Linked DNA regions of Homo sapiens: regions 2, 3, 4, 5, 6 and 7 are each reported to be linked to region 1. The links are microRNA targets in miRTarBase. Many come from high-throughput screens and were not tested one by one. Region 1 holds a microRNA gene; each other region holds the end of a gene's coding sequence.
Evidence for each region. Region 1 holds the annotated microRNA hsa-miR-183-5p (UAUGGCACUGGUAGAAUUCACU, at 1,422-1,443, opposite strand). A microRNA usually pairs through its seed, bases 2 to 8, with sites in the 3' UTR of a target mRNA and lowers its output. Matches are read on the target gene's strand: a 7mer-m8 pairs with bases 2 to 8, a 7mer-A1 pairs with bases 2 to 7 and ends in A, and an 8mer does both.

Region 2: the mRNA of ZNF616 is a reported target of hsa-miR-183-5p. The part of its 3' UTR that is shown has no 7-base or 8-base seed match.
Region 3: miRTarBase lists CTDSPL as a target of hsa-miR-183-5p. Seed matches in the 3' UTR shown: 7mer-A1 at 1,617-1,623 and 7mer-m8 at 964-970.
Region 4: miRTarBase lists KCTD15 as a target of hsa-miR-183-5p. Seed matches in the 3' UTR shown: 7mer-A1 at 1,873-1,879.
Region 5: miRTarBase lists CCDC142 as a target of hsa-miR-183-5p. Seed matches in the 3' UTR shown: 7mer-m8 at 1,894-1,900.
Region 6: miRTarBase lists TRIT1 as a target of hsa-miR-183-5p. The part of its 3' UTR that is shown has no 7-base or 8-base seed match.
Region 7: miRTarBase lists ACP6 as a target of hsa-miR-183-5p. Seed matches in the 3' UTR shown: 7mer-m8 at 2,885-2,891.

Annotation. Positions count from the first base shown.
Region 1 is chr7:129,773,546-129,776,626 of GRCh38, forward strand. It overlaps MIR183 (microRNA 183), which reads right to left and starts at 1,469; the gene lies at 1,360-1,469. MIR96 (microRNA 96) reads right to left here and starts at 1,224; the gene lies at 1,147-1,224. RefSeq lists an enhancer at 1-549.
Region 2 is chr19:52,112,131-52,115,211 of GRCh38, reverse strand. ZNF616 (zinc finger protein 616) reads left to right here. Exons shown (of 4, transcript NM_178523.5): 4 at 1-2,121. The coding sequence ends at 394. Among named protein-coding and RNA genes, the nearest start is that of ZNF841, 18 kb to the right of the region's middle.
Region 3 is chr3:37,980,248-37,983,328 of GRCh38, reverse strand. It overlaps CTDSPL (CTD small phosphatase like), which reads right to left. Exons shown (of 8, transcript NM_001008392.2): 8 at 1-2,587. The coding sequence ends at 2,462. Among named protein-coding and RNA genes, the nearest start is that of VILL, 9.0 kb to the left of the region's middle.
Region 4 is chr19:33,812,345-33,815,425 of GRCh38, forward strand. KCTD15 (potassium channel tetramerization domain containing 15) reads left to right here. Exons shown (of 7, transcript NM_001129994.2): 7 at 446-3,081. The coding sequence ends at 604. Among named protein-coding and RNA genes, the nearest start is that of KCTD15, 17 kb to the left of the region's middle.
Region 5 is chr2:74,471,936-74,475,016 of GRCh38, forward strand. It overlaps CCDC142 (coiled-coil domain containing 142), which reads right to left. Exons shown (of 9, transcript NM_001365575.2): 8 at 2,981-3,081; 9 at 897-2,867. The coding sequence ends at 2,611. It overlaps MRPL53 (mitochondrial ribosomal protein L53), which reads right to left and starts at 745. Exons shown (of 3, transcript NM_053050.5): 1 at 634-745; 2 at 423-535; 3 at 47-317. The coding sequence starts at 725. The coding sequence ends at 184. RefSeq lists enhancers at 154-283, 684-783.
Region 6 is chr1:39,838,895-39,841,975 of GRCh38, forward strand. It overlaps TRIT1 (tRNA isopentenyltransferase 1), which reads right to left. Exons shown (of 11, transcript NM_017646.6): 11 at 1-3,019. The coding sequence ends at 2,850. Among named protein-coding and RNA genes, the nearest start is that of LINC02811, 23 kb to the left of the region's middle.
Region 7 is chr1:147,644,844-147,647,924 of GRCh38, reverse strand. ACP6 (acid phosphatase 6, lysophosphatidic) reads left to right here. Exons shown (of 10, transcript NM_016361.5): 10 at 359-3,081. The coding sequence ends at 502. Among named protein-coding and RNA genes, the nearest start is that of ACP6, 24 kb to the left of the region's middle.

The sequences.
Region 1 (3,081 bases):
ACTGATCTGGGCTAAGTCCACCAACCCTTGCCTGAGGCTCCCTGGGGAGAAGCAGCCCCATCAGGGGCTGGCCCAGTGACCTGGGGCATGATAGCTCCCAGCTGGTCCCAAGTCGGCCACTGGTCTCCTGCTTGATTGCTGACCACCAGATTTCACATGGGTCCAGCCTGGCTGGCCAGGCTCTCCCCAGCTTTGACAGACTAGGTCCAGGCCTCCCAGCCTCAGTCTCTGCCATCTGGGGCATCCTTGGGAGCCCAGGCCTGTAGATTCAGAGCTGAGACACCTCCAGGCCCTGGGTGCCTCCATGGAAGGTGTGGCTGGTGGCGGAAGAGCCACAGTGACCCAGCTCTACCACTCACCAACCTCTTCAGCCAAGCCTTTCCTCTCAAAGCCTCAGGTTCCCCATCTATGAGATAACTATTTTAAAAAATTACAAGCCCCACAGGGCTGAGGTGGGAACTGTTGGGATTATATATGTAATGTCACCTGACACCCAGATGGAGAGCATAGGCCAGTTAGTCATAGCCCAGATCCAGGGACCCAGGAAGCTACATTACCAGTGTGTGGTGTGTGAAGGGGAACATTGGCCTCTGCTCCAGAACCTTCTAGGGGCAGGCCTGAAAATGCCCTCCAACTCCGAGCCCCACTAAGTATCCTCCTCTTGGAGCTGTTCGGAGATGACCCACTCCACAGCAGGCTACAGCTCCAGAGACGGTAGCCCCCCTGGAAACACCCAGGCTGACCTCAAGGGCAGCCCACCTGCCTGGAGCTGCCCCCTTCACAACCTGCAGCAGAAAAGACCAGGCCCTGTGCTGCCAGCCAAGGTCTCACCCCAAGCGTGTGCTGGGAGCCTGGCTGGGCCTTTCCAACCCACGGCACCATTCAGGATGGCCCTACAGATGGTTTCAGACTCCCCCACCTCTGCCCTGGGCGGCCCCATCTGCTGGCCCAGCTCAGATTGCTGGGCTCCCAGCTCTACCGTGGCCCCAGGCAGTGTAAGGCGATCTGGCTGCCCACCAGCGCTGGGCCCTCACACAGCAGCTGAGCCAGATGGGCTGGGGAGGCGGTGAGGAGGCCTTGAGGAGGAGCAGGCTGGGGCCCTGACACAAGGATGCAGGGGAGGCGGACGCAGCTGCGGGTCCTGCTTTTCCCATATTGGCACTGCACATGATTGCTCAGAGCGGAGAGACACAAGCAAAAATGTGCTAGTGCCAAAATCGGCCAAGCAGATGGCACTGGTGCGGGCTCTCTGGGGACACACTGGACGAGGGGCCTTGCATCCCTGCACCCTTGGAAGCAGCCTGTTTCCGACGTCTAGGAGCACTCAAGGCAGAAGTGGGTAAGGTGCTCCGGAGGCCCTCGTGGATCTGTCTCTGCTCTGTTTATGGCCCTTCGGTAATTCACTGACTGAGACTGTTCACAGTGAATTCTACCAGTGCCATACACAGAACAGGAGTCACACTCTGCGGCCTGCCGACCCTGCGGAGAGACCAGCGGCCCACGATGCCCGTTCCCTGCTCCTAGCCTGCCCACTCCCTTGGGGGCCCCCCAGCAGGCCCTCAGCAGCGGCTGCTACGGTCTCTACCCCCCACCCCATCCCACCTCTTCACAAGATCCACATGCCCCATCAGCCCAAGATGACCTTCAAGGAGACAGGGACAGTGCGGGAGAGGAGCTGACCTTCTGGCCTTGCAGAGGAGAAGACCACACCAAGGTGTCTCCTATCTCCACCTGAAGGCCCACATCCCTCCACATCACCCAGACTGCGCCTCCAGGCTGGGGAGGGAGTGGGTCAGGACCATCCATCTCCTTGCCAGAGTAACTCTGGCTCGGAGAGGCAAGCAGCTGGCCAGAGCCTCCTCTCTACCCAACCTGCCACAGGGGCAGTGACCAGTGGGACATCCAAGATGCCTCTCGTAGCCTCTGAGCCCAGACACCAGCAGCCCAGGCTCCTAGGCACTTTGGTCTCCATTATCCTCCACCCCCCAGCCTGCCCTGTGGCAGAAACAGAGCCCCAGGAACAAACCGAATCTGCTGCTCACCCCCACTCCCATCCCAAACCAGACCAGATTGGGCCAGACTGTGAACCGCCCAGGCTGGGCATCTCTGCTGCCGGCCTAGGATCAAGGCAGGAAAAGGCCAGGAAAGGAGGGCAGAAGAGAAGTCCTGCAGCCACCCAGGTGGCTTGGAGGGAGCCGGAGGCACGGATGCACTCTAGCAAGGGAGTGGCTCCTGGCTGGCTCTGGAGTGACTGCGGAGGAAAGCGGAGGCTCAGGAGCGAGGGAGGGGCTGGGAAGGTTGCATCAGTGGTTGCCAGAGCAGCTGCCTAGAGAGAAGTTGCTGTGGAGGCCCTGCCTCTGGTGTCACAGGCCCTGGGGAAGGACGGGAAGAAGGGAGAGGGTGGGAGGGAGGGTCTCTGGGGAGCTGGCACCCAGGGCAGGCAAGCTGGGGCCTCCGCAGAGTGGCCACTAGAGTCTCAGCCTACTCCAGGTCAGCGGTGGCCCAGAAGGCAGGGTGGCTAGAAAATATCCTGGAAGGGTCAGAGCAGGTGCCCTGGCCCAGAAACTATGCAGACCTCTTGGCGATGTTACCCCCAGGAACTACCTCCCGTGGACCTCAGAGCTCCATCTGGGTACCTTGGCCAAAGCCATCCGCTCTCCCCTAGACACTGCTTAATGCTCCACCCTTCCTGCTCCCGAGGACTCTTTGTCCTGCTCCCACACACCCCCACTACAGGGCTCTGCCCTTCTAGCTGGTCTATCTCCCCAGAGGACAATCCAGCTTGATGAGGTGGTGATCTCAGGAAGTCACTCCTCAGCCTTCTGCCTCAGTTTCCCTTACTACAATTTTCTGAACTCTACTAAGGAAGAGAGACCAGACTTCCCAGCCTTGGGTGGGGAGGGGAAGGGGTGATGGCAGGGTGTTAGCAAAGAGTATGGGGTGGGTAGTTATGAACATTGCTTAGGGTGTAGCCATAAGCATCACCCAAGGAGCCTGTTGAAATGTAGATTCTTGAGCCTGCCTGGAAATCTGCATTTTAATAGCACCCTGACAGCTCAGCATGGGGTGGGGGTGGGGGTG
Region 2 (3,081 bases), not on the chromosome of region 1:
TCAGACTGTTCATACTGGAGACAGACCTTACAAATGTAATGAGTGTGGCAAAACCTTTAAACGGAGCTCAAACCTCACTGCACATCAGATAATTCATGCAGGAAAGAAACCATATAAATGTGATGAATGTGGCAAGGTATTCAGGCATAGTTCACATCTTGTAAGTCACCAGAGAATCCACACTGGAGAGAAAAGATACAAATGTATTGAATGTGGCAAAGCCTTTGGGCGGTTGTTTTCCCTCAGCAAACACCAAAGAATTCATTCTGGCAAAAAACCTTATAAATGTAATGAGTGTGGGAAATCTTTTATTTGTCGCTCAGGCCTCACTAAACATCGAATAAGACATACTGGAGAGAGCCTTACAACTAAACTCAATGTGACAAGGCCTTAGACGTTGTCCTAGTTTCTGGAATCACCGAATAATTCCTACTTACTGATATACCTTGTATATTTACCCCTTCTCTTGAAATCCCTGTGGAATTGTAATCTCCAGTATTGGAGGTGGGGCCCATTGGGAGGTGATTGAATCATGGAAGTGGATTTCTCAAACTGAGAAAGATGTAGCGTCATCCCCTTGGTGCTGTCCTGGCAATAGTGACTTCTCTTGAGGTCTGGCTGTTTAGAAGTGCATAGCACTTCCCTGTCGCTTGCCCTCATTCTCACCATGTGAAATACCGACACCCGCTTTGCCTTCCACCATGATTTTAACCTTCCTGAGGCTTCCCTAGAGGGTGATCAGATGCCAGCACCATGTTTTCATTTAAGCCTTCAGAAATATGAGCCAATTAAACTCTTTTCTTTATACATTAGCCAGCCTCAGGTTTTTTTTTGTAGCAATGCAGTTATGACCTAATACATTTACACATGCAGTAAATATACCTAAGTTTTAAGCTAGTATTCACTACTCACTAGGTGTAAGAATTTGTATATATATTCCAGGATGTATACATCCTGGAGAAAAATCACAGAAGTGTAATACGTGTGGCAAGAATTCTACTCAAAAGCCAGAACTTGTAAATCTAGGTAATTAAAAGGGCATAGATGTATGAAATGAAATGAGGGTGGCAAAACCTTTACTAGAGTTCAATCACTACTTGTCATAAGAGAGTTTATACTGAAAGGAAATCATATAAATGTATGTGTCAGAGGCTTTCCCCAGGCATTGGAACTCACTAGGCATCAGAATATACATCTTTGAGAGGAACCACAGAAATGTAATGTGCATGCTAAGGTTTTTACCCGAACATCAAAATGGAAAGAGTATTCATACTAGAGACAACCTTCCAAATAAATGGTTTTAAAAAATGAAATGTTCAAAGACCTGGAATCAACCCAAATGCTTATCAGTGATAGACTGAATAAAGAAAATGTGGTACATATACACCATGGGATACTATGCAGCCATAGAAAGGAATGAGATCATGTCCATTGCAGCGATGTGGATGGAGCTGGAAGCCATTATCCTCAGGAAACTAACACAGGAACAGAAAATCAAACAGCACATGTTCTCACTTAAAAGTGGAAGCTGAACAATGAGAACACATATACCCAGGGAGGGGAGCAACACACACTGGGGCCTGCTGATGGGGGTGGGAAGGGCAGGGAAGTGGAGCATCAGGACAAATAGCTAATGCATTTTTGCCTTAATACCAGGTGATGGGTTGGTAGATGCAGCAAACCACCATGGCACACATTTTCCTATGTAACAAATTTGCAAATTGTGCACATGTACCCAGAACTTAAAGTGAGACAAAACCAATGTCCACGCCTTTGCAGTTTGATTGAACGTATAAAGGAGAAAAATCCTGTAAGTATGCTGAACATGAAAGGACCTGGAAGCAGTAGTGTGTCTTCAGCCTTTACCAAATTATCCCTACTTGAGAGAAAACTTGGAAATGTAATCAATGTGGCACAAATTTCAACCAGTTTTTTAAACAGACTACACATCTTTGAAATCATACTAGGGATAACCAAATCTGCTTCTCCAAGATTGGCCTGGAATATTATTACAGAATAACTACCAGACAACATTTGTTAAAACTCAGGACAGTATGTATTTTAAAGGAGCAAGTGCATGTGTGAAAATGGCTCATTCAGTTTATAAAATATTACATTAAATTTGAGGTTTCTGTTTTTTTTCTTTTGTGACAGTCTTGCTCTGTTCCCCATGCTGTAGTGCAGTGGCACCAGTTCACCTCACTGTAACTTCCACATCCTGGTTTCAAGCAATTTGTGCCTCAGCCTCCCAAGTAGCTGGGATTACAGTCATGCCACCATGTCCAGATAATTTTTATATTTTTTTGTAGAGATGGTGTTTTACCATGTTTGCCAGGCTGATCTCAAGCTCCTGGCCTCAAGTGATTTGCCACCTTGGCCTCACACGTTGCTGAGATTACAGGCATGAGCCACCACACCTGGCCAATGGGGCGTTTCTTAAAATAGCTACTAGACTATGACGTTTATCCTAAGGTTTGAAGTCTATCATCTTCCTTACATATCCTTCATTGTGGTATCTGGGAATGAATCAACAAGATGAGAGAGCCTCCTTCATTCAGTGTGGCTCCTTCATTTCCATGCTTCCTGAAGATTAAGGTCACTGAATTTTAAAATTCAATATTCTGTGAGTTACACACCATGGAGTAACTGGGAGAATAATGTAAGTTTATGATGTAAGTTGTGCTTGTGTTCCAGGTGTCCATGAACACGTAGAGTGCCACTTTGGGTTGTAGAAAATAATTGCACAACCAACTGACTGAAATACCAGTGAGGACATTGATGGAATATTAAGGGTATTCATGAGAGGCAAGTGATAGGTTACTAGGGATGGATTGTGTGGGAGAAATAATGCAGAGGAAATGATGATCATCTCCATTGAATGACAGCTGTTATATAGCAAAGATAAATGTAAAATTAGTCTTATTCTTGGAAGTGGAAGACAGCAGTTATCAGAGAGGAGAATTTAATCAAAAGAATCAGAATAGCATGGTCACAGGCCAGATTCACATTGAAGTATTTACTCTATATTTTACTGCTGTTACATTCAAAATGTATCAGAAGTCTCATGGTTCAATTAATAAA
Region 3 (3,081 bases), not on the chromosome of region 1:
ATGATTAAAAATATATAGATATAGATATAGATATAGATATAGATATTTTGATTATGTACATAAAGCAGATTCAAGGGTTAAAATAAAAACAGAATTTTGGAGTGTGGTCAAATAAGGTGCACAGATTCCAGAACCCTCAGAGGGCCTGCTGGCCCTCTCCAGACATTCTGTGTCCGTGGTGCAGGAGCTGGGCCCGTCCCTAACAGCTCCGCACTGGCTTAGTGCAGTGGTGCTCACAGTTTCAGGAACTACTAGGTGAAGTGTCTGGCTCAAGTCTGCCAAGTGTCTTCACTCCATCGTCAGAAGTGGAGCACTATCCCTAGGTTCGATTCCCATGAAATATTTTATGATTTCCATCCTCTTTGCCCGCTCTTCCAAATAAGGCCCTGTGATGCCAACGAAGGGGGCATGGTTGAGGGTCTAAGGCTCTCATTAGGGCCTAATTCTGTGTGGATATCAACACATGACAGACACTTGACTGCAACATTCAAGACATTTAAGGCAGTGGGTTCATTTAATGACTACTTTTCCAAATAAATATTTGTGGCATGGGCAGTTCTACCATGTAACTGTCATTATCTGTGGTAATATCTAGCAAGGGGCTGTTCTATTTGAATTGGCATGTGGATTACTGGTTTGGAACACTCAGAATGCTGGGAGACCTGTTTACCCCCTGAATACTTACTTCCCTTCTGAATATTCACACAGCAGTCCACAGACCAAAGTGCTGTTGGGAGGATGTAATTGGCAGCTGGCTTCATTACTTTGTGAATGAAAGCAAAACAAAGATATTTTACTTTGACCCCCGATTTCCAGTCTTGTTAATGCCAGTCACTCCCACCAGAATGCTGGCTGAAGACCAACCCACAGAGGACTAAGGCAATGGTGCCAATATGAAAGGGTTCTTTTTAATTGTTTTTAAGAGCAATACTTTACAGACTGTCTTGTTGTCAAACAAGGAACATGGCACTGCTTAAACACCAAACTGGGAAAGGCTGCAAAGAGAGCCTGGGCTCTCCCTGTGGGAGCTCTTCCTCTCCCTGGTTTGGGGCAATGAGTCCCACATCTAGACAGGCTTCCCCAACCCTTGGCTCAGAAATAGGCTGTGCTTCAAAGGAGAAGACCAAGAGATGGACTTGGGCCACATCAGCTTGGTGGCTGGTTGAGGCCACAGGTTCTCAAGAGAGAACAGTCAGCTTATTTATCAAACAGGATCTGATACTGACTGCAGTTTAAAATCCATGCTACACCTAAGTGGTGCTGTGGTCCTTTTGCCTTTGTACCCTTCAGTGGCCAATGCCAGGAAGGGGTTACAGGTGGTGGAGGCTGCAATGGGATGGGACACCTCTGTTTCTGACCCTGTCCGAGTTTGTAGCTTAGCAGTGAGCATATTCTGAGCATAGGCACAGTGGCAAAGAACAGTGTAACAGCCGCTGGTCAATTCCATTTGGTGGCAGCGCGGTAGCAGCAAGGAAAATTCCCAAACAGCTCCATGTGTATCCAGCTTTTGGAAAGGAAAGATTTAAAAATCAATAAACAGATTTCTTTTATATCCAAGGGTTTTAGGGTTTCTTGTAACTGCTCTACCCAAACAATAACAACAAAAAACACAAATGTATGGCAGTAGTGTGAGAGCAGAAGTGACAGGATGTCACTTTTCAAGGAGAAAATGTGACCTCAAGACAAACTTGTCACCATCAGAAATAATAATATAAAATAATCTATTGTTTCCTAAAGTGTTGAGCCACACAATTGCAGATACATTCCAAACTGGGTCAAAAATGAGTGGAGACAATGACATAGTCATGAAATCCTCCTATCAGGAGCCTGACCCTGCAGCATGCCACAGGTTGTCAGAGCAGTCACACCTGTTGGGGGACAGGCTCCTGTGACTCACTCCCCTCCCTCAGCACCCCCCGCCACACACACACACGCTACCAGGTTCTAGAAAATTGTCATGTTCATCTTCTTATAGTATCTAAGACAATAAAAGACTAAAAGATGTCTGGAAATATGTTGTGTAGAAAAATTAACTCTCGGCTTAAAATAACATTCAAAAGGCACTTCATCCTGTAGGAAAGAGATTCTGAGTTGGGTCAGCTGCTCTGAGCTGGGATAGAAGGGGACAGGTGGTCTGCTTGGAGGGGAGGACAGTTGAAAGGAAGTCTGATAGAGATCAAGCTTTTTTTTTTTTTTTTTCTATTTTTTTCTTTTTTGGTATGTTTTAAGAAAAGCAAACCCAGTAAAATGCATGTCCCTTTATGAAATTTCTTAAAAGAGTTCTTTTAAAATAGTTGTTTCTGTTCTTAAAAAAACAAAACAGGTAGGCATGGCCACATTCACCCTGTGGCCTGGAGCACGGAGTATCCTCACTTTCAGCTCCCAGGGAGCTGAGGACAGGCAGGTCCCCTGAGGCCAGAGGTTCCAGAGTGCACAGGCGGGAGGCAGGCAGAGGCCAGGGCTACCTATTGCAGAGTCTGTGCAGCATGCTGTACACGTCGTCCTCCCGGCTCAGGCCCTCAAAGAAGGGGATGAGGTCCAGCAGCTCCGTGTCCGTCATGTCATCGAACCAGGACTGCACAGGCACCTGGAAGACAGTGCATGGAGGAGGCAGCAGGACTGCATCTAGCGCTGGGGGCTGCTCCTAACCTAACCGGGTACCCGGACTTTGAGCACTTTCTTTAGTAAGGACGACTGGTGTCATCATCGTTATCATCATGATTTTGTTTGTTCCCTTGTTCAAATTGAGGCCAATCCAAAGCTAAATGGCTTGGGAGATGGCTCAGGGAGGCAAAGTTAAATGTACCCAGTTTGTGTGCATTTGCCTGTTTTGTTTTCCTGCCACAGAAAAAGGTGGCCAGAGCATAGAATGTATGAGAACTAGCCTTGCTACTTGCCAACTTCCAAAAGCTCTTTCTACTGCACAAGATCGGTTCCTTGCACCTCAGAACACTTGGAGCCAGAGCTTACAAGCCAACCACTGACAGCGCGGAGCTCACATCCAGGACACAGGAAGGCTTCCACTTAGGGTCACTGTGCAATATTACATCACAAAGAGAAGTGGTAAATTTCCTCCCTTGC
Region 4 (3,081 bases), not on the chromosome of region 1:
TGCACAGCTCAGGGAAGCTGGTGGATGCCTAGAGGCTGAAGGACAGGGAACTCTCCATTATTGGGGCAGGACTCAGGGAGGACACTTGGGGCCATGTGTCTGGAGAGAGGGCATAGGTTACACCCTACAGAATAAAGAAGGGACCCAAAGCCTCTTTTTGCCTCCCGGAATCAAGGCCCTGAGGGCAGCAGGATGGTGGCCTGGGTGGGGTCGTCCAACTAGGTTTGCTAACCTGAGGGGTCACTGGGCCTGGCCACTTCTGTCCCTCTGGTGGTGGAACCCAGCACGTGGTTCTGTAGGGACCTTTGTCAGTGAGCAAGACTGAGATCGTCACAGGAGAAGGTGCCCTTGCTGGCTGCCCCAGCAGGCACCCACCTCCCTGCCAGGCCAAGCCAGGTGTCCTCTTGCAGCTTGGCCTTGATGACCTCTGTTTCTTCCTGGGCAGGTCCTGGAGCGGCTGTTCCAGAGGGGTTTCAGCGTGGCTGCGTCCTGTGGGGGCGGTGTGGACTCCTCCCAGTTCAGCGAGTATGTGCTTTGCCGGGAGGAGCGGCGGCCGCAGCCCACCCCCACTGCTGTTCGAATCAAGCAGGAACCCCTGGACTAGGCCCTGCTTCAGTGCCCACCTGGGCCCCCCCAGGGACCTGGAAACAGTGCTGGGGAGTTCTGCCTGTGTATACTTGGCCGTGGGCATGAGACCGAGGGTGAGGCTGGAGGGTCCAAAGCTGGCCCAGCGAGCACCAGGGTCCCAGGTGTCATGGCAACAGAACGTGGGATGCTGGAGGCATGCCTGCAGAAGGACTGTTGATGCGACCCAAAGATACAGCGGTGGGATCTCTGCTGCCAGCTCTCCCAGCCCCTCAGCTTCGCAGCCTGGCGCAGCATCCTCTGAGGCCCCGGGGCCTGTTGGGGCGGGGTTGGAAGAGCCGTCTGCAGCTACTTCAGAGGAGCTGTTTATCCCTCTCCACGCGGGGCAGACTCTGGCGGGTCTCCTAGCGTCCGAGAGATGGCTTATTTTCTACAGTATTTAAAATGGATGCAGCCCTAACTGCAAAAGTCAGAGAGGCTGACAAGGACCAATGCTTCTTTATCTGGTGCTCAGTTCTCAGTCAGACGTGCAGCATGGCTGCAGGGTGGACCAGCTGCCTGGCATTCAGGCCCAGATGCCTGCAGGGCTGGGGCTCTCGGGACAGATGCAGGGATGTGTGCTGCAGGGCTGCTGGGAGGAGAGTGGTGGGGGCCTGAGGGCTGAGTGATTCTGTAACCACCTGAGACCTTCACGTTTGCTGCCGTTGGGGGCTCAGGCTGCACTCCCCGGGTCACCTGACCTGCTGCCCAGGGGCTTCCAGTCCTGTCTGTGTGGACTGGCACCTGGGCTGCTGGAGAAGTCTCCTCCCGTTCGGACCAGCCTCAGGGCTGCACGTTACCTCAGGAATGGGCCCCACCATGAAGGGGCCCATCTGTCAGCAGCGTCTTCTAGGTCCCCAGCTCAGGGAGCCATCCCCAGCTCCAGTTTTCTCATGCGAATATGCACAGTTTTAATTCACGTTGTTACACTAGCCTGCCGATGAGACCCAGACACAGGCAGACCTGGCGCTCTTGACCCCTGATTCCAGTGAGGACTGGCCCTGAGGAGTCCTTGCAGACCTGCTGCCTCCCCCACGACAGGCCCAAAGATGGACCCCCCCTGGCCTTGTGACAGCTCCCCAAGTGTTCTCCGGTGGAGAAACTGCAGAGGACTGGTGGGCGGGGCTCCCCAGCCATCACCATCCTGTGTACAATGGCTGTAGACTTGTATATGGCTCCTTTAATATTGTAAAGATGCTGATGTACAATTGTCGTGCATTTGTGTGAACACATTGCGTTCCCAGTCCATGCCATAAATGATGCTCTCAAGCAAAAGACTGGAGGCTCTGTCCTGTGCAGAAGCAGCAGCCAGACTCCCGCATTCGATGTTGTGCAGGGAGGTTTGGGGGCGGAACGGATTCCTCCCTTGGATCCTTCAGTTCCCATCGAGGAATAACCCGCAGCAGTGGTGGAGGAAGGTCAGTGGCTGGGTCCTGAGCTTGGTGTTATTTATTGCATTTGGGTGCCTGTCCCCTCAGGGCAGCACAGATTCTGAATTCTGATTCACAGTCCCTAGCCAGATGGGAACTGGGAAAGAGACAGAAGGCGTCTGGGTGCTTTTGAACCCTGTCTCAAATGTTTGGGATTTTCTCTCTCACTATTCTTTGGTTGGGGATGATGTCCTCTTTAGACCCCCACGTAATGGTATGAGAAGGTGGCAGGCAGTGGCTCAGCCAGCCAGGGGGCACCAAGTCATGCAGCCAGCGTGAGACCTGCAGTTCACCTAAGCACAGAACGAGATCTCAGTATGCCTCCATGTAAACAGATTCACATAGGCCTCCAATTTCAATGAGACCTTTTGCATTTTTTCTCAAAGCCCTTATGTTCTAACCCATGAGAACCATTTTACCTGCCCTCTAAGGGCCACCAGCTTCGACCTGCCTCAGGGGACAGCAGCACAGACCAGTGGCTCCCTGTCCAAGGCCGCAGAGCAGACGCCATCCCACTGTACAATCGAATTTGCTGGACAAACTTGATAGGTTTCTCTGCTTAGCAACGAGCCTATAGTTAGTTGGCACATCTGCGTTTTGGCATCTGAGGCTCCCATCTGAGTGGAGGAGAAAGTGTTGTGTTTATTAGCAGGAAGTCTTGTGAAAACAGCTCGCTGCTGTGTATGTTTATGGATTTTTCTGATATAACAGCCAGCATGGTTACCGAGTGGTAGAGATTCTCGAACATTCTCAAACTCTCTTTTTGGGTAAATGATTGTGCTAAAAATAAAATTTATTAATAAAGAAGGGGAAAAAGGAGTAACTCTACCTGACTAAATGTTACTCTAATTTATTTATTTCTTTACTAATTAAGTAAAACCAGGAAGTATGATTTTACATCAACCAGAGAATTTCTGAATTTATAGGGAAACACTATGTCCCCATAATGATGCTATAATTCTAATATATCTAGTCCCCATAAACAGTAAGTACAAATTATCATTCCTTTAAAGCATTTTTACACTTC
Region 5 (3,081 bases), not on the chromosome of region 1:
CAGGTTCATCCAGACACCTCTCTGATCTAGTCTTGTTCCAGAAACATTGTGGTAGCAGGGTTTTAAACTTTATTTTGCGCTCCGTGACCCTTCAGATAGTGATTTGAATGATTAAGTGAAACTCTTCTTAGGTTAAGTGTCCTAGTCCACGCTAAAATCATCTTGTTGGTCTCTTTGGCGCTGTCAGCGACCAGTATCAGCGCCCGGCTTGTCCCCGCTGCCCGCCGCGTCCCTGGCCCGGATGTGGGAGGCGAAGGCGGTGAGCATTTCCAGAGCGGTGAGATGAGCGCCGCGCATAATCAGGCGATGCCCGTCTCCTGGGGAAGAAACAAACGAGTGAGACAGGGAGGGACCGCAGTGCTGGGGCTTAGGGGCGCGCGGGCTGCTCGCTGTTCCCTCCTGCCCGTCTCCACCAAGCCCACCGAACAGCACGTCCACGCAGGGCTCGGAGCCGTCATGCCTCACGTCCGCAATCACTGAGCAGTTGAGATTAGTGGAGCGGACCTTCTCACTGCTCACCGTCTGCAGGAAGGTCCTACGGTGGAAAAACAGAGGAGCGCCAAGCTGAGGGCTTAAAGCCCCGGCTGAAGGAAGGCGCACCACTTCCCGCTTCTACCCACTTCCCCTTCGTACCTCGTCGATTCCACGTTTTTCTCGAAGGGACAGAACTGAACCCGAACCTGTTTGACAGGCCGCAGACCAAGCCGAGCCAAGGCAGCTGCCATGGTGACCTCCGCCCCGGAAGAACTCGTGCAGGCGGAAGTGTCGCATTGCGTGAGGCCGTGAATGGCTGCGCTTCTGCGGGATAGACTTCCGGCCGCCGGCTGCTTAGCAGGCCTGCGAACCGCAGCTCTGGGCTTCCTAGCCCAGGCGGAGGAAGGCAGGAAAGAAAGAGGTGGTTTCGGCACAACGCATGGGGGAGCCCAAAGTAGGCTGTCAGCAAATACAGCCTATCATGAATAGTCCTCTCATACGACGGTGAAAACCATAAATAAATGGCGCAAAAACCTCTTTGCACGAAAATACGCCCGTTTTCTGCAGCCTTTCCCCTTCTGTACCCTGCTGGGCCACATCTAGGCTAACTCGATCTTAAATCCTGGCTTCTTCCAAAGAGAGAGCACTAACACAAGCCGGGATGATCCACACCAGAAGGTAAACACCATTCAGGTAACTGAAGATTAAACGTAGTGAGCTCTGAATAGCCAAAGCTTAAACGTGAAAGTACTACAGCCCAATATTAGTAAATGACTGAAAATAGTAATAGGAAGGGCAGTACAGGGTAATACTGTCCTTGGGGCTGATCCAGGTATAGAAATGCCTATTAAACCTCTGTGGTTCTCCATGAATTAGCGTAGCTCCCAGGACTTAAGTTGAAGTGCATTCTAGCCAGTTTTCTTTTTTTGAGACGAAGTTTTGCTCTTGTTGCCCAGGCAGGAGTGCAGTGGCGCGATCTCGGCTCACTGCAATCTCTGCCTCCCGGGTTCAAGCGATTCTCATGCCTCAGCCTCCTGAGTAGCTGGGACTACAGGCGCGTGCCACCACGCCCGGCTAATTTTTTGTATTTTTAGTAGAGGCGGGGTTTCACCGCGTTAGCCAGGATGGTCTTGATCGGACCTCGTGATCCGCCCCTCTAGGCCTCCCAAAGTGCTGGGATTACAGGCGTGAGCAGGCGTGAGCCCCCTCACCTGGCCGAGCACTCAACTCTTTATCCCTGAGATATCTTCAGTGATGGAGAACTAGGCCTGAACCTCCCAAGGGTCTGACCTTCAGGTTCCAGGCTATGGTCTTGCTCTTTACTCTGGATTCCAGGTGCTGGAGTGATCTTGGATTTTTTTTTTTTTTTTTTTTTTTTTTGAGACGAAGTTTTGCCCTTGTTGCCCAGGCTGGAGTGCAATGGCACAATCTCGGCTCTCCGCAACCTTCGCCTCCTAGGTTCAAGCGATTCTCCTGCCTCAGCCTCCTGAGTAGCTGGGATTACAGGCATGCGCCACCACACCTGGCTAATTTTGTATTTTTAGTAGAGACGGGGTTTCTCCATGTTGGTCAGGCTGGTCTGGAACTCCCGACCTCAGGTGATCCGCCTGCCTCAGCCTCCCAAAGTGCTGGGATTATAGGTGTGAGCCACCATGCCCTGCCTAATCTTGGATTTTTTTTTTTTTTTTTTTTGAGACAGAGTCTTGCTCTGTCACCCAGGCTGGAGTGCTGTGGCTGGATCTCAGCTCACTGCAAGCTCCGCCTCCCAGGTTCACACCATTCTCCTGCCTCAGCCTCCCGAGTAGCTGGGACTACAGGCACCCGCCACCACGCCCGGCTAATTTTTTGTATTTTTAGTGGAAACAGGGTTTCACCGTGTTAGCCAGGATGGTCTTGATCTCCTGACCTCATGATCCGCCTGCCTCGGTCTCCCAAAGTGCTGGATTACAGGCGTGAGCCACCTCGCCCAGCCCCTAATCTTGGATTCTTAAGCCCAGGCTCTTTGTAGCTTATTCTCCAGTATGCTTTCCTCCAAGCTTCCAGTTCTGGGCTTCCTTAATATGCAATTCCAAATGTCTGGATTTTCCAGCTAGAGATGGGGAGCTCTTAACTTTCTGGCTCCTGGTCCCAGGCTCCTTAGGATTCAGGACTGGTTCCCAGGCAGGAAAAAAACGGCAGGTGCCAACGGGGTCGCTGGTGTTGCCTGAGGGCAAGCCAGGCCTGCTGATTTCCCACCAGGTAGCCCTCCGGGCTAGGTCCCCTTCCTCCTAGTGTGCTTTGCAGCTGACCTGTCTGGGCTGGAGATGTTCCAGGCTGGAGCGGGGGCTCCAAGCTCTCCAGGCTATTGAGGCAGCTGCTGGGCAATTTCGTGGTCTGGACCTCCTGACAAGCACCTGGTAAGGCAGGAGTGGAAGGTAGGTGGCTGCTGGGGATATACTGAAGCCAGATTAATGGTGAGAATAGGGTTTGGGACACACAAAGCAGTGAGCGAAGGGGAGTAACTCACAGCAACAGGGGGGCCTCCTGTGGACTTGAGACTTGGGCAGGGGCTGCTGCAACAGACACAGCAGGGCCCCATCCAGCTGCTGGAAGATGCTGAGCATGAGC
Region 6 (3,081 bases), not on the chromosome of region 1:
ACTGAGAGTTAGGAAGGATCAAGCCATATTCCTGGAATACAGATGAGCTGTTCTCTTGCTTAGCCCTAAGAATCAAGCAAAGTATTTTCAAGTCTAGATCTCTCTTCAGAATCAAAGTACTTTCTACCCACTTACAACAGCACTGCCTGAACTGTGAGAAGTATCTAAAGCCTAATCAAGATTTTTACTGACAGAAGCAGATGAACCTAATAGCTCACTGAGTATTGGAATTAATTGCCAAAGCCATTTAGATAGCACTGCTGGTGTGATGGACTGGAGGCTCTGGATACCTGGACTGGAGGGCTCTGCTTGCCTTGGGATTGCTATGGCCAGATGGTACAAAATGGCATTCCTCATTCTCACTCCAGGCTGAGCAAATAGCCCAAAGCTCTATGGTACTTTTCAGCTCTCAAATGAGATTTGGTATGAGATTTAGTAATAGAGTAAGAAAGGTGATCTAAGGTTTGTCCCAGCTTTGCCTTGCTCTGTGACTGGAACATCCATGTTTTAGGCCTCAGTTTCCCCATCCATACAAGAGATAAAGAATTCTTTCATCTCTACATTTACGACCACCACAAGACAAATTACTTTCCTTCCCTACACTCAACAGCGAAGTCATTCATAGGGGAGCAGGCACAAAAGGGGAAATCTACTCAGGGCAATGCTTCAGACCAGAGCACCAGGCAGATTTCTAGTGAGTGTTCTGCCTTTCCCAGGCTCTTTGCTGCTGATAAAGGAATTTCATTTGGCTGAATTTACAATTTCTAAGAATATGAACAGTGGGCTCAACCACACTGCCTTACACTTAGTAAGTGCTTCATAAATATTAGACACTTTTTTTTTGGTAAAAAAGGCCTGATTTCCAATTGCCATAGAGATAACAATGAGTTCAATGAGAAGTTACTGCTCCAGGTATTTCAGATGGAAGGATTAAAAGCTTTTTGACGTACAATTATTAAAACTAGTTTTTCCTGCTTGTCTACTGAAACCTTTTTAGGCTTTAAAACATACTTAGCAACTTGAACGAAGAATATTTCAGAGAAACTAAAGGTTCTTCCCTACAAACTGCCAGCTTAACACAGTGCTTAATAGCTTGAGTCTACCAGCCTCACCTCAATTCCAGCTCTACCGCTTGCTAGCTGTACTCCATTGCTGAGCCTTAGTTTCCTCCCTGGTTAACAGCAAAGGAAACAGCATCTCCCTCCCAGGGCTGTGTGAGAAGATAACATATAAAAACGACTTGGCACTGCTTGGCTCACAGTAAGTACTCATCTCCACTCCCACCGGGAAGATGTGGCTTCCCACCTTGTTAGGTCCTAAAGTAGTTAATAAACTTCTTTGCCCAGAGAATAAATTTATTTTTGAGATTCAAATCAGTTAAAAGTGGGTGAGGCTCTGGAATTCAGCACTGTTTAAAAAGGTCAATCAAGTTAGATAGTTTTTTTACTCTACCTTCTCCTCTATGAAGTCTTATATGCATAGGAAACAAAACATTTATCAAGAATTGCTTTTCAAGGTGCAGCAGAAATGCTCCTCCTTCCATGATCCCTTCCCTTCCTTCTAAACTGAAATTCTACACAGCTCTTACGGCCTTTGATACTGTCTTGCCTGGATTGGTGTTTGTGTACACATGCAATTATTTATAAGCTCCCTGAAGGCAAGAACCACATCTCATCTCTGCATTCCCTTTAGCCTAATTCAGGGCCTCTCATAGAGTAGATTCTGCACAAACAAAATGTATTTGAATGGGGAGTTAACGCTTAAAGGGCACAAAGTTTGTTTGGAGTGACAAAAACGTTTTGGAAATAGTGGCAACGATTGCACAACATTGTGAATGTAGTTAATGCTGCTGAATTATACCCTAAAAATGCTATATTTGATGTTATATATAAATAAGTATCTGTTTAACATTGCTGGCAGCTCAGGTCACTCCAGAAAGAGGGCTTCAATTGGAAGTAATAGATCTCCAATAAAAGACCCTCTCTAGATGTCTTCAAGGACTATAACGTGTTAAATAAACACCCGCTACATAAATGAACAGACAGCATGATCTACAAAAAGTGTCAAATTTGAGAAAAAGCTATCACATTGATAACAGAGCATACTGTGTATAAACTAGGCATGGACTTGTATATCTTTTTAAGGATCAAAGAGGCTCTTGTAAATTTTTTCTTTATTTAAACTTCAATAAAAATATAGATTTGTAACTCAATAGAAAGACAGCAGTGATAATAACTCACACATGAGCAGCTCGCAAATTTCAAAGTCTTTGGTCTTCAAGTCCTATGTCACAGCTTCCTCAGTCTGATTCCCTCCTTCTCTGTAGAATTCTGAGAACTAGTTTGGTTCACTTAATCATCTCAATGGAGATGGCCCTTTCCTGCCATTCACTCAAATCTAGAACTCCCAATATGTGGCTCACAAATACTTCAGTCATCTACAAAAGCATCTGGAAATTAGATAATTTTAGCCAGAGTCAGGGACATAAAACTTCTTTAAAGGGATGCAGTCAATCCTGGTATTCACCACAAAGAAGATCCTCATGTATAAAAATGTGGAATCTGTGCTGCTTTTAATAATAGAACCTTTAAGGTTCAAAGAAAAAAAAAATGCTTTCCTGAACTACATCATTTCCAGACACATCAGCCACACAAGGAGCTGACAAGACCTGCTGTTTCTATTATAGAGAACGTGAGACTTTAAAACCACATCAAAAGAAAATGGTGGGAGCTTTTCTGCTATGCAGAGAATTCCGCATAGCACTCCTTTGCCCAGACTGGGAGACAAACATACCCCTCCCTCCTGAACTGGATCCCCACCACCTTTCCAAAGGCCACTGGACATGTCTCTTAAACGCTGCATTTCAGCTCTTGATCATTCTGCCCTGGGGATCCCTTCTCTTTAGGTTCTTTGTTATGGTCTGGGGAAACACTCTGACTTTCTATGGTGTTGACAGCATCTGAGTCCAATCTTCTTCTTTTCTTCAGTTGGTTCAAGTGGGATTTGGATTTTATGTGCGCTGATAAGACAAAATCAAACCAAACAAACAAAAAAACTCATTAGGAATTTTCTAGAATTAAT
Region 7 (3,081 bases), not on the chromosome of region 1:
ATCTTTGGGAGGTGATGTGTGCTGCTGTTAGCACCCGTGGTGTTGGCTGCTTCATCAGGGCTGGGGTCCAGGGCAGAGGCCAGAGCACGCCCCAGGGATGAGCCTGTTGGTTCTCCCAGCTCGGGGATGTAACTCGACTCTTTCTTCCCAGTCAATTCAACACTTTTTGAGTGACTTTTACAAGCAGAGCATAGTGCTTTTATTCTGGAAGCTCACCGGGTAGTGGGGCCTTCCTGTCTGTAATATGTATGCACATGTATACCACATGGATCAGAGCCTCTCAGATCTCTGGGCTTAGCTGGAAATAGCAGAAGGACAGGTTCCTCGGCGGACCTGCTGAGTTATGTTTCTTCTGCAGGAGCAGGTGCCGAGAGGTTGCCCTGATGGGCTCTGCCCGCTGGACATGTTCTTGAATGCCATGTCAGTTTATACCTTAAGCCCAGAAAAATACCACGCACTCTGCTCTCAAACTCAGGTGATGGAAGTTGGAAATGAAGAGTAACTGATTTATAAAAGCAGGATGTGTTGATTTTAAAATAAAGTGCCTTTATACAATGCCTCCTGCTTTGTGTGTTTGGGAAGAGGAGAGAGCAAGGGGTAATGTACTTTAATATAATGTAAGGATATTTCCTTTCTGTGGGTTTACTAAGATTTCTTCCTGAACGGAAAAGGGGTATAATATTGAGACCAAAAGGATATTTCTCTATTTTGTGAGTTGGTTTCTAAGGTTAGAAGCATCTTTGTGTGACACGGGCTGGGGACATCATGACCCTGTAGAATTGTGTCGGTTTTGGACTTTAGTTCTTTTCTCCTATATTAATTTCACATGTATTGAGCTACCTACTAAGTAGTGATCATTATAAAGGTGAAAACACTCTGCCCTCAAGTTGTTGCAGTCCAGTGGGAGAGGCAGCCGAGTAAATCAGTGATACAGTGCTGTATGTTTTATGCTGTAATAGGTATTTGAGGGGCTATTTGGGTATAGAGAAGAAACTTCCTGCTCACATGGCAGGGGATGTGGGGAACAGTCAAGGAAGGCTTCTGAAAAAGTCCTGGCCTGATCTGAGTAGAGAAAGGTGGGTAGGAGTTAACCAGGAAAGCAAGGATGAAAGCGTGTTGCGTTTAGATAAAGGATAGGCTTCAAGGTCAGGGAACGTTGCTGGGTGGTGAGATGGAACCCTGATGTGGAGGCTCAGCAGGAAGAAGCAGGAAGGACACTGGGCCCCTGGTGGTTTTAGTTCCAGAAACAAATGTGGGCCCCAGGGCTCTGCAATGGTAAGGCTGGAACTACTCAACATAAGAGCTCCACCTTTAACTGTGCCCCCTAAGAGTACCTGATGATCCCCCTATCTCCTTGTCAATGTTGCTGTTCTTCTCCAGAATCTATTTCAACCCTTCTCTGATTTCAAACCACCAGTCCCTTTACCTCTCAGAGAAAACAGCAACCACAAAAGCCTCTCCACTTCCTACTATCTTAATATTGACAACTTCCAGATCAGGGAGCTGAGATATCTCAAGCTCAGGTTTCTCTTCTGAGCTTCAGACACTTTTATCCACTTGGATTTCACTGGCACAAAACTTTCCATGTTAGAATCAAACCCCCCTCCTCCCAGACCTGCTTCTCCCACACACTTCCCTATCTGAATGAAAGACACCTCCACTCTCCACCCAGTTGCCAAATCAGAAATCTGTCTTTGTTTTCTTTGTCTCACATTTTCCTATGTCTAATCAGTTAAGTTTTATCAATACTACCTGTTTATTTCTTTAATCTATTCACATATCTTTATCCTCAATCTTCAGCATCCCCTTCCCATCCTCAGTCTGCTGGTTACTGTATTTCCTATTTTACTAAGAATCTAAAAGAGATCAGAAGAAAACTTCCACATCCCCCAACACCCAACCACCAAATCTGCTAACCCAGTTGCATTGGTGCTTTTATAGCCTTCCTTCCTCCCTCTTACTAAGAATGAACCAACACTATTCCTATCAAAGCCCAACCCTCTAGCTTTACATTGACTCCTAGTGTCTTTTTTCTGGATTGTCAATTTTTTTCCTGACCAATTATTCTATTAGCAATACAAATATGCTGTAAAATCTCTTAAACTTTTTTCTCTGCATCTTTGAACTGCTGTTCTCTTTTCCTTCTCCCCTTCATAGCAGAACTCCTCAAAAGAGTTGCTACCTCTAATTCTTCCCTTCCAGTTCTCTCATGAACCAGCTACAATTAAGTATTCACCCCCACCACTCCATGGAAACTGCTCTTGTCAAAATCATCAATAGCCTTTGTGTGGTGAATCCAATAGCCAGTTTTCATTCTTCTTACTAAGCTTCTCATCAGTATTCCTAGACTATTTCCTTCACTGGCTTCGACAAATGCTTTCTTGGTTTTCCTCCAATTTCTCGACTTTGTTCCTGCTGAATCTACCTTTTTCTAATCCGTAAGTGTTGGGGTGTCCCAGGGCTTACTCCTTGGACCTTTTTTCCACCTTTTCCCCTACACTCACCCACTAGGTGATCTCAAGAATTTCCAGTTTGAGGCCGGGCGCGGTGGCTCACGCCTGTAATCCCAGCACTTTGGGAGGCCAAGGCAGGCAGATCACCTGAGGCCAGGAGTTCGAGACCAGCCTGGCCAACATGGCAAAACCCTGTCTCCACTAAACCTGCCTCTACTAAAAATACAAAAATTATTATATTTTTATAAAATTATTATAATTTTATAAAATTATTATATTTATGGAGTACAATGTGATGTAATCCCAGCTACTCGGAAGGCTGTATGTGTCTATTTATGGAGTACAATGTGCCTGTAATCCCAGCTACTTGGGAGGCTGAGGCAGGAGAATCACTTCAACCTAGGAGGCAGAGGTTGTGCTGAGCCAAGATCGTGCCATTGCACTCCAGCCTGGGCAACAAGAGAGAAATAACATCTCAAAAAAAAAAAAAGAATTTCCAGTTTTAAATATTTACACAATGTCTCCTAAATTTATACCTTCAACCTAGACCTTTCCCTGTGAATCCCAGTCTCATTTCCAACAGTCTAATCAATGTCTCTATTTGGATGTTTAAGATATACAATAGGTA